2 linked regions of the Homo sapiens genome follow. The protein of the gene in region 2 interacts with the protein of the main gene of each other region in a pairwise test. Each region holds a gene or a part of one and is shown on either strand. Other genes may lie near its edges.

Region 1 (4,026 bases), on a different chromosome or scaffold from region 2:
CAGGGTACTCGGGGTTGGGCTTGGTCGGAGAGAAGTAGACCAAGCCATTCAGAGGTCCGGAAGGGGCAGAGGTCCTGGGACAGGAGCTGGGAACACGGGGCGCTCCCTAACCCAGGCTGCGGCGCGTCTCTCCCCGCAGGTGTGGTTCCAGAACCGGCGCATGAAGGACAAGCGGCAGCGCCTGGCCATGTCCTGGCCGCACCCAGCCGACCCCAGCTTCTACACCTACATGATGACGCACGCGGCCGCCACCGGAAGCCTGCCCTACCCCTTCCACTCGCACGTGCCGCTGCACTACTACCCGCACGTGGGCGTCACGGCGGCGGCGGCCGCGGCTGCAGCCTCAGGCGCGGCGGCCGCGGCTTCGTCGCCCTTCGCTACTTCCATCCGGCCACTGGACACCTTCCGCGCCCTCTCGCACCCCTACTCTCGGCCGGAGCTGCTGTGTAGCTTCCGCCACCCTGGTCTCTACCAGGCTCCCGCGGCCGCCGCGGGGCTCAACAGCGCGGCCTCTGCCGCGGCAGCCGCGGCAGCCGCAGCGGCTGCGGCCTCCTCGGCGGCGGCGGCCGGCGCGCCCCCCAGCGGCGGCTCTGCACCCTGCTCGTGCCTCAGTTGCCACAGCAGTCAGTCGGCGGCGGCAGCCGCGGCAGCAGCTGCCGCAGCCCTGGGTTCCCGGGGTGGCGGTGGCGGCGGCGGTGGTGGTGGTGGCGGCGGCGGCGGGGGCGCCGGGGCCGGGGGAGGCTCGGACTTCGGCTGCAGCGCGGCGGCGCCGCGTTCCGAGAGCGGCTTCCTGCCCTACTCGGCCGCGGTGCTTAGTAAGACGGCCGTGAGCCCGCCGGACCAGAGGGACGAGGCTCCGCTCACCAGATAACTACGTCGCCACCGCCAGGGGGCCGCGCCCGCCTCTCTGAGTGTGCCCGGGAGTCCCCTGTGCGCCCCCTGAGCCCTCCGCGCGTTGCCCGCTGCTGCCGCTGCCGCCAGGGGGCGCCCCGGGGCGCGGGAGGCCGAAGGGAACCTGCTCCGAATTGGGGGAGAAGGAGCAGGCGCAAAAGCCTGGCGGGCATCCCCCTAAATTATTTCTATTTTTGTATTTGCCACCCAGCCGTCTGCCCTTCTCTCTCTTTTCTGGCTCCCGGGACCCACTTTCCACCTCTGTCCTGAGCGCTTGGTTTCCCAAAGACCAACCCCTCGCCCCCTAAGCTAGTCCTGGCTGTGCACTCTCAGGTCCGGGTTGCTTGGCTGAACGGCGTGGCCCGAAGCAACGGAGAACCACAACAAAGACAGAGGGGGATGCTGTGCGCTGGTGCTTGGGGGCGGGGGAGGAGTCGCCCCGGAGGTTTCTCGCTGCTGCTGTTTTTCTTCCTTTTCTTTCAACGAGGGTGGGGGAGGTGGCAAACGTTCTTTCAGCCTGAGCTTATTAGGGACCCTGCCCGAAGAGTGCGGGAGAACGGAGGTCTGATAAGGCCGGGAGGACGGATGGAGAGCGTGGGCAGCGGTGGTTGTTTGTGAGATTGTTTACTACGTTCAGGAGCAAGGCGGGTAGGGATGTGGCCGCCTTCCCCGGGAAGGACAAAGCCGAGGTGCTGGAAGGGGTGGCCGTTGCGCCGCCTCCTTTTCGGTCCAACACCTTTCTCTCTTTTGGTCTTTGGTTTCAGTGCTGATGGAATGGAAGCATCTTGCATATTTTATGCAAAAAGTGATGGCAAAAGAGGTTGCCACGGCCAGGGAAGGGAAAGGAAGGGAGTTGGGGTAGGGGTAAGACTGATAGATCGCTGTAGTATTTGGAGAGGCGTTTTCAGCTCAGTTTTCCAACTACCGGGTTCCACTCGATCTGGGAAATACTTGAATCTCTAGATATATTAATATTATCCTAAAGCATTTCCTTAGACACTTTTCTAAGTTAGAACTCTCTATGTCCCTCGTCCCCTTCTCTCCTCGCTTTCCTTTTCCTCGGGTGAAATGGTTCTTGGCATATTTCTCACGCATGTCTATTGCGCCTTCGCCTCTGCAAAGCCACCGCTGGGTTGCTGAGACCCGCTCTGCCAACCCGGCTACTGGAGGGGTTTCCTTGAACTTGAAGAAAGGTACATCAAAACCCACTAGTGTTAACTGCCACGTCAAGTTTGATGCTAATAATGTGCAGATTATGACGAAAATTGCCAATCATGCTCTCTGATGGACCTCCTTTGAATGTGGAATTGGAGAAAAGTTCCCCGCACGGAGACCTGCTGTCAAGTACTAACAACCCGCTAAGGGAAGTCATTAGGAGAGACGGATAAGAGACTCGGTACATAAAACATTGTTCTTGGTGCATAGAATGTATGTTATTTAATGTTATCTCTGTTACCTGAAGTGATTTCGCAGAAGAAAGCCACGTTCTTATCATCTCAATTGCCGATTTTCATTTTGGTAACTTGGACGCCCTGGGTAGACTTTTCTCTGTTAAGTTGATATTCCACCAGTGTGAACAGCCTCATTAAATCAAGCCCAGATATTTCCATAATGCTCCCCGCAGAGCCACTTGGCTCCTCACATAATGAGATTTTCTGAAGAGTTGAAGCCCTAAAATAACTTGCTAGTGCATGTTTAGACCCAGCGAAGTGGGTATGTGTGTGTACGTGTATTAAAATGTAGGTAGGCTACCTACATGTGTTTGTGTATGTGTATATATATGTATATGTATGTATATGCATATATATATCCGTGCTCTTAAATACATATGTAAGAGATACACACATATTCATGTATACATACACATTGGCACTATTTTCTGTGGTTTATTTCAGATTTGTGTCCTGCCATCATATTGTTATTTTAAAGACACTGGATTTTAAAATATCATTTCCTAAATATAGGCTTTCAGTAAACTTTTGAAAGAATTAGTTTTCCAGGAGAAATTATTTCCATCAAATGGAAAATACATAAAGGGGAAACAGTATTTCGAAATTCCTGGGGTCTATTAAAATATTACCATAAAATATTAGAGAACTTTCCAATGAAATAGCAATGATCTAAAACTTAAGTTTTTGTTTTTGTTTTTAAAAACATGAGACTACTTATGTAAAATATTGATTATACCAGCTCTTATTCACTGAGTTTACATTTTTAAAAATATTAATATATAATTTAAGGCTAAATAAAATAAACCAAAATATGGTACCCTTTATCAGCTTTACCTATTTAGATTGTTAAAGTCCTTTGTTATGATCAGCTAACAGATGTATATAAGGTACTTTAGGCAGTAATGTTTACATTTCCCCCAAAAAATATATATGATTGATGAGAACGCTGGTTGGTAAAATTAACATAAATTCATCATTTGTTGGGTCCATTGGATCTGGTTATTATATTGAAATAAAATTGTAAATAAAGTCTTCGTGCTTTAAATATTGCTGGATGTATGAACTCACTGTAAGATATTTTACAAATGTGCAATAATTATAAAGCCTTGTATATTACGTTATTTATTGTGTTTGGTCATGTAAAATAAATGTTATTTAAATCAAGGCAGTTTTATTTGTTTAAGAGATTGCAAAATGGTTTGTGCTAGTGTTCGTTTTTAACTGTGGCATCCAGGGTTATGAGAATCTCTTAAAACAACATGTTTAAATCCATATAATACACATATCAGATGGATTAATTCATTCTAATCATTATTTTTATGGCAAATACATTACTCATGTTTATAGGAGACATGCACTCTTCCAAACATTGGTTTAACGTTAATTGGCTGGCTAAACAGATAAGAGTGTTTAGGAGTAGTGTGTGTGTCGATACACATGGTAGAGGACGTGCCGTCATATATATAGGGAGTGTGTACACAGGGTTAGGAGCTGTTTATGTTTGCAGTACTACAAAGGTAAACAAAATTAATTCCTCTATCTAATTAACTTGCCCACTTTTATTCTCCCACTTATGAAGTAAATATTAATATTTAATTCAAGGAAAAAGTTCACTCTTAATAGGAGCTCAGCCCTCTTCAAGCTCAGCCCTCCCTTACTAGTTCCATCTCCTTTGGTCTCTTTT
Region 2 (7,656 bases):
CTATTTCATCCCCTCCTGTATTATATTATTTTGATGCAAATCTTAAACACCACATTATTTCATCTGTAAATATTTCAATGTTATTTCTAAAAGGCATCTCTAAAAACACACACTACCATTATAGTTAAAAAAACTAACACAAAATTTTTTACATCACCTAATATTCACTTTAAAACTTTTAGGAAAAAATAGGACAAAATCTTGGGACTTAGAGTTGACATCAAAAACATGATCCATAAAAGAAAAAAAACTGATAAAATGGACTTCATCAAAACATAAAACTTTTGCTCTGCAAAAAGACTCTGTTAAGAGGATAAAAAAACTAAGAAATTGGAAAAAAATACTAGTAACTGCATATCTCCCAAAGGACTCATACATAAAAGAACTCTCAAAACAAGCCATTTAGAACGTAGGCAGGCCGGGTGCGATGGCTCACGCCTTTAATCCCAGCACTTTGGGAGGCCAAGGCGGGCGGATCACCTGACGTCAGGAGTTTGAGACCAGCCATGCCAACATGGAGAAACCCCATCTCTACTAAAAAGACAAAATTGGCTGGGCATGGTGGCGCATGCCTGTAATCCCAGCTACTCGGGAGGCTGAGGCAGGAGAATTGCTTGAACCCAGGAGGCCTCTGCGGTGAGCCGAGACCGCGCCACTGCGCTCCAGCCTGGGCAACAAGGCGAAACTCCATCTCAGAAAAAAAAAAAAAAAAAAAGTGGGCAAAAGATATGAACAAATATTTCATCAAAGAGGACAGATACACAGATGGCAAAGAAGCACATGAAAAGATGTTCAACACCATTAGTCAATGCATTGTTCAAACATCATTGCATCAGAGAAATGTAAATAAAAACCACAATGAGATATCACTACGTCTCTATCAGAATGGCTAAAATTTAAAAAGTGATCACCCCAAATGCTGGTGAGAATGAAGGGAAACTGGATTACTCACACATAGCTGGTGGGAATGTAAAATAGTACAGCCACTCTGGAAAAGAGTATGGCAGTTTCTTAAAAAGAAACTAAACATGGACTTACTACATGACTCAGTAACTGCAGTCTTGGGCATTTATTCCAGAGAAATGAAACTTATGTTCATACAAAAACCTGAACATGAATGTTCATAGTAGCTTTATTCGTAATAGCCAAAAACTGGAAGCAGCTTGGATGTTCTTCAACCCATGGTAAACGGTTAAACAAATTGTGATGTATCCATACCATGGAATTCTATTCAACAATTTTGAAAAACCTGCTATCAATACAGGCGACGCCTTGCATGGATCTTAAGGATAGTATGCTGTGTGAAAAAAAGCCAATCTCCAAAGGCTTGTTTTGAGAGTTCTTTATGTATTTTGTGTATTAGTCCTTTGGGAGATATGCAGTTGCTGGTATTTTTTTCCCACGTCTTGGTAGTTTTTTCATTCTCTTAACAGTCTTTTGCAGAGCAAAAGTTTTTCATTTTGATGAAGTCCATTTTGTCAATTTTTTTCTTTTAGAGATCATGCTTTTGATGTCATCTCTATGTCCAAAGATCTTGTCCTTTTTCTAAAAGTTTTATACTGAATATTTGGTGATATAAAAAATTTCAGGCCGGGTGCAGTGGCTCATGCCTGTAATCCCAATACTTTGGGAGGCTGAGGCGGGTGGATCACCTGAGGTCAGGAGTTTGAGACCAGCCTGGCCAACACGGTGAAACCCTATCTCTACTCAAAATACAAAATCAGCTGGGCGTGGTGGCACATGCCTGTAATCCCAGCTACTCAGGAGGCTGAGGCAGGAGAATCCCTTCAACCTAGGAGACAGAGGTTGCAGTGAGCCAAGATCATGCCACTGTACTCCAGCCTGGGTGACAAAGCGAGACTTCGTGTTAAAAAAAAAAAAAAATTTAGATTCACAGTTGCCAAGAGTTAGGAAGAATGGAGAGGAAGGTGTGAATATAAAGAGATAGGTAACACAACAGATAACCTTGTGGCAATAGAATATTTTTATACCACCCTTTTTTTTTTTTTTAAGAGAGTCTTGCTCTGTTGTCCAGGCTTCAGCGCGGCGGTGTAATCACAGGTCACCACACCTTCAACCTCCTGGGCTCAAGCGATCCTCCTGCCTCAGCCCCACAAGTGGCTGGGACTACAGGAGCAAGCCACCACACCTGGCTAATTATTTTTTAATTTTTTTGTAGAGCAGGGGTTTTGCCGTCTCCCTTTGTTGCCCAGGCTGGTCTCCAACTCTGAGGCTCAACCTATCCTCCCACCTCGGCCTCCCAAAGTGCTGAGATTATAGGCATGAGCCAGCATGCCTGGCCACATTTTCATATCTTAATTGAGGTGGTAGTTACACAAATTAATACATATGATTAAACTGCATAGAACTAAACACACACACACACACGAATATATGTAAAACTGATGAAAGCTGAACAATGTCCGTGGATTTTGCCAATATCAATTTCCTAGTTTTGATATTGTACTATAGTTATATAAGATGTTTTCATTGGGGTAAATGGGGTGAAGGGTACATGGGATCTCTTTGTACTGTTTATTTATTTTTATTTTTTATTTTGTAGAGAAGGGATCTTATATTTTGCCCAGGCTGGTCTCAAACTTCTGGGCTCAAGTGATCCTCCTGCCTCAGCCTCCCAAAGCACTGGGATTACAGGCCTGAGTCACCACGCTTGGCCTGTACTATTTTTGCAATTTCCAATGGATCTATAATTACTTCAAAATAAAAGTATAGGCCAGGCACGGTGGCTCACACCTGTAATCTCAGCACTTTGGGTGGCTGAAGAGGGAGGTTCACTTGAGGCCAGGGGTTCGAGACCACCCTGGGCAACGTCTCTACAAAAAAATAGGAAAATAATTAGCTGCCTGTGGTCCCAGCTCCTGGAGGACAGGAAGCATTGGGGAGGGGGGCTGAGGAGGGAGGATCGCTTGAGCCCAGGAGGGTGGAGGCTGCAGTGAGCTATGATTGTGCCACTGCACTCCAGCCTTGGCAACACAGTGAGACCCTGACTCCAAAAATTTTTTAAAAAAACATTTTAAGTATAAACAAAACTTTCACTAGCCCTACTTTTCTTTCCTTAAGAAAAGCTTCCCAAAAGAACTGTCCACATGCCCCATAACAAATCACAATCGCTATTACTGGTATCCCACTCTACTCCCCCTATCCACCAACACGCAGCAGCCAGAGTCAACTTTTAGAACATCAACATTTAATTATTAGCCTCTTCTTTTTTTCTTTTCTTTTCTTTTTTTTTTTTTTTTTTTTTTTGCGAGACAGAGTCTTGCTCTGTCGCCCAGGCTGGAGTGCAATGGTGCGATCTCAGCTTACTGCAATCTCCGCCTCCCAGGTTCAAGCGATTCTCCTAAGGCTCCGGAGTAGTTGGGATTACAGGCGCCCACCACCACGCCAGGCTAATTTTTTTGTATTTTTAGTAGAGACGGGGTTTCACCATGTTGGTTAGGCTGGTCTCCAACTTCTGACCTCAGGCGATCCGCCCGCCTCGGCCTCCTAAAGCGTAGCCTCTTCTTAAAACCCTTTTAAATAGCTTCCCGTGGCTCTTAGAATAAAAGTCAACGTGTGGTTAAAATAAACTAAAAACCTTGCTGTGATGTAGTCCTTCTGGGTCATTCCACACCATATGTCTTCCACTAAACTTCAGTCACACTCATATGGCCCACCTTCTAGTCGTCAAAATAGCCAAAACCTCTCCAAGCCTTACAGCCTTCACACAAACTGTTTCTTCTACAGAGGACAGAGAAAGACAATGGTTTCGAATGTGACGTCCAAACTATAAATCACAGGACACTGAATTCTGCGGGCTTTCATTAGCATAAGAGCTGCCTCCGACGGGGGCAACACTATGCGGGGTGTGCCAGGAACTGATTTAAGACTGTATTCAGATCTTCCAAGCAACGCCAAAGACTCCAGCTTATAAAGAGCATATTTGATTGCTTATACTGTGTGCTAGGTCCTTTTATCCTTCAAATGACCACCTACAGGAGAGACTAAGGTCCAATTCACAACTGAGCCTTTAAGGAGGTTAAGTAACTAGCCCAGAGTTCAACAGAAAGTGGACGGGTTGTTCAAAGCCAGAGCTACTCCCGACCTCTACTCTATACACTGCCTTTCCTCCGGCCCGTAAATACAACGAATGAACCTGCAGGTTGGTAGCTCCTGGGATCCGAGGTTGGAGTGCCACAGGACCCCAACCTGCTCTCACCCCGGGACAGGGAAATACGAACAGGGGCACAGGTCCACCACCAGGTGCCTCCGCGAGGGGCAGCAGCGCAGGCGGCGGGGAGGACCAGCGGCCACTCACCTGGTGCTGGCGCTGCGGCTACCTCCACACAGCGGTCTTGGCCTCCCAGACGCGAACCCGCACGCCCCAGGGGAGCCACCGGCGAAAAGCCCGCGGGCCCGTCCGCAGGCACCAACCAAATAACGCAGCGCTGGCACCATCCCCTACGCACGCTCCCCTCCCTCAGCGCTCAGAAGAAGCCACTTGACCCTCCACGGCCGAGGACCCGCGCTCTTTAGCCCCGCCCCTCACGCGGGGGCCAATGAAGTGGCGCGCCTTCGCCCCATGTGGGAGAGGCTGCGGTGGCCAATAGGCGCGCGCGTCGGAGGGCGAAGGGCCGGCCAGGGTGCCGCAGACGCGGGGACGCTGGCTCGCTCCCTCCCTCCCTCCCTCCGACGCTGTGAGTAGAGAAGCTAGGCCCCGAGCCGGGCGGGACTAGGGTGGTGGTTGTGTTCTGCCCTCGCCCGTCGCCAACGCTGGGCTGACTGAAAACCTGGCCCTTTGGGTCGCGCGTCTTCGACCTTCACCGCCATGCGGACATGGGGCCGTGGGAGAAACTCTGGGCGGGATTACGGTGAAAATTCTTGTTTGGGCGGGCCCTGCGGCTTCTTTCTTCCGGCTCGCCCTCGGCCCCGCCCCCGCCCCGCCCCCGCTCCAGCTCCAGCCGGGTCCTCGCTCGGCCCCGCACGCGGCCCGCGGTAGACGGAGGGCCTGGGCACCCACCGTCTCCATCCCGGCCCCAGCCCAGTCGAGCGTCCACTAGAAGGGCGCTCCCTGTCCGGCCCTAATCCTCGCTCCTCACGGAGGCTCTTTGTCACAGCGAAGACTGACAGCCCGCAGTCTTCTGGACTTCTTTTATGGGGCTCCTGGCGGTGCTATTCATTCAGTCATTGATTCGTCTTGTAAATATGGAGCGCCTGCTCTGTACTCGACCCGGCACTGGGTACCGGAAGAACCAGACAGCTCGGTTTTTGCCACCATTTATAAGTCTGTGTCCTTTTCTTGAGTACTGAACCGAGATACAGTTTTAAATGTGCTGTGCGGTCTCTGAGCAGCGACTCACCTGTGCAGGTCACTTCACCTGATTCCCTTTATGTAAAAATGAGGGCGATGGGCTGTGTAATCTCTAAAGGACCTTCTAACTCTTTAAAATTGTCACTGTGCCGGTGTTGCTAACACTCATTCTGTATGCTTGATGGCAGTTTTTAATTTTTAGGGTTAGGACAGCTGAACATAACAAATAGAATTATACAGATTTATTACCAGAAGGACTTCGTGTGCCTCTAAGAATCTTGGTTCCAGTCTTTGGTCAGGTAGCTCCAGGAAATCACTTCACCTCTTTGCCTCAGACCCTCCTCAGTGAACTAGGAATGATAGCAGTGTCTCCCTAGTCTTAGGGCCGTTGAGCGGATTACACGAGATAAGGTCAGCAGGTGTTTAGCACAGTGAAGCATTTGCTACGTGATGACATTTATTATGGTTAAAGGGTTTTACCACCAGAACAGTGGTACATAGTTTGCTTTATTTGTTAAAACAATGTAGAATATTGCCTGCTTGTTCCATCACAGATGAAAAAAAGAGATGGTTATTCAACTTTGTGAGGTAATTGTGGATTTCCATGCAATTGTAAGAATAGAGATTCTGTGTACCCTTTACCCAGTCTTCCCAGTGGTAGCATCTTGCAAAACTAGTACCATATCACAACCAGGTAATTGACATTCACACAATCCATTGATCTCATTCAGATTCCTCATTTTGTATTAGTGTTCTCTGTGTATATTTAGTTCTATATGGTTATCAGGTGTGTAGATTCTTGTATCCACCACCACAGTCAAGGTACAGCCCAGGTCCATCACCACAAGGGTCCCTCCAGTTGCCCTTTTATAACCACAACTTACCTTTGCAGCCCCACCCAATCTATTCTCTGTTTCTAAAATTTTGTTATATCAAGAATGTTACATAAATGTAATTATTGTAATTATACAGTATGTAACTTTTATTGACTCTTTTTCATTCAGCATAATCCCTTGAGATATATCCAAACTGTTACATGTATCAGTAGTTCCTTCCTTTTTATTACTGAGTGGTATTCCATAATGTAGATGTACTACAGTATTGATATGGTTTGGCTGTGTCCCCACCCAAATCTCATCTTGAATTGTAACTCACCATTCCCATGTGTTGTGGGAGGAACCAGGTGGGAGGTGATTGAATTATGGAGGCAGGTCCTTCCTGTGCTGTTCTCCAGATAGTGAATGAGCCTCACAAGATGTGATGGTTTTAAAAACGGGAGGTTTCCCTGCACAAGTTCTTTCTTTGCATGCTGCCATCCATGTAAGATGTGACTTGCTCCTCCTTGCCTTCCACCATGATTGTGAGGCCTCCCCAGCCATGTGGAACTGTAAGTCCATTAAACCTCTTTTTCTTCTCGGTCTCGGGTATGTCTTTATCAGCAGTGTGAAAATGGACTAATACAAGTACATTCAACTGTTCACTCATTGAAGGACATTTGAGTTGTTTCTAGTTTTTAGCTATTGTGAATCAAGCAGCTGTGAACATGAGTGTACAGCCTTTTGTGTGAACCTGTTTTTGTTTCTCTAGGATAAGTGCCCAAGAGTACAATTGCTGGGTCATATGGTAAGTGCATGTTTATTTTTTATTTTTATTTTTGAGACAGGGTTATGCTCTGTTGCCCAGGCTGGAGTGCAGTGGTGCAATCTCAACTCACTGCGGCCTCTGCCTCCTGGTCTCAAGCAATTCTCCTGCCTCAGCCTCCTGAGTAGCTGGGACTATAGGCACATGCCACCACGCCCGGCAAACTCTCATATTTTTAGTAGAGATGCGGTTTCGCCATGTTGACCGGGCTGGTCTTGAACTCCTGACCTCAAGTGATCTGCCTGCCTCAGCCTCCCAAAGTGCTGGGATTACAGGTGTGAGCCACTGCACCCAGCCTATTGTATCATTCTTTTTTATTTATTTGCTTATTTATTTTTTTGAGACAGAGTCTCGCTCTGTCACCCAGGCTGGAGTGCAGTGGCATGATCTCAGCTCACTGCAAGCTCTGCCTCCCGGGTTCACACCATTCTCCTGCTTCAGCCTCCTGAGTAGCTGGGACTATAGGCACCTGCCACTATGCCCGGCTAATTTTTTATATTTTTAGTAGAGACAGGGTTTCACCGTGTTAGCCAGGATGGTCTCAATCTCCTGGCCTCGTGATCCACCCGCCTCGGCCTCCCAAAGTGTTGGGATTACAGGCATGAGCCACTGCGCCCAGCCTATTATGTCATTCTTATGCCTTTGCATCCTCATAGCTTAGCTCCCACTTTTGAGTAAGAACATACGATGTTTGGTTTTCCATT

Evidence for each region.
Region 1: the proteins of DMAC2L (region 2) and EVX2 interact in binary tests that used the Homo sapiens proteins (3 or more experiments, as listed by UniProt).

The regions. Positions count from the first base shown.
Region 1 is NC_000002.12:176,076,952-176,080,977, reverse strand, and holds the end of EVX2 (homeobox even-skipped homolog protein 2), read left to right. Parts: intron 1-139; coding exon 140-871; 3' UTR 872-3,506; downstream 3,507-4,026.
Region 2 is NC_000014.9:50,307,693-50,315,348, forward strand, and holds the start of DMAC2L (ATP synthase subunit s, mitochondrial isoform a precursor), read left to right. Parts: upstream 1-4,631; 5' UTR 4,632-4,697; exon of another isoform or gene 4,698-6,571; coding exon of another isoform or gene 6,572-6,698; intron 6,699-6,766; exon of another isoform or gene 6,767-6,898; 5' UTR 6,899-6,934; intron 6,935-7,656. Other genes in the region: L2HGDH (L-2-hydroxyglutarate dehydrogenase, mitochondrial), read right to left, coding at 4,319-4,458. UniProt on the Homo sapiens protein: Involved in regulation of mitochondrial membrane ATP synthase. Necessary for H(+) conduction of ATP synthase. Facilitates energy-driven catalysis of ATP synthesis by blocking a proton leak through an alternative proton exit pathway.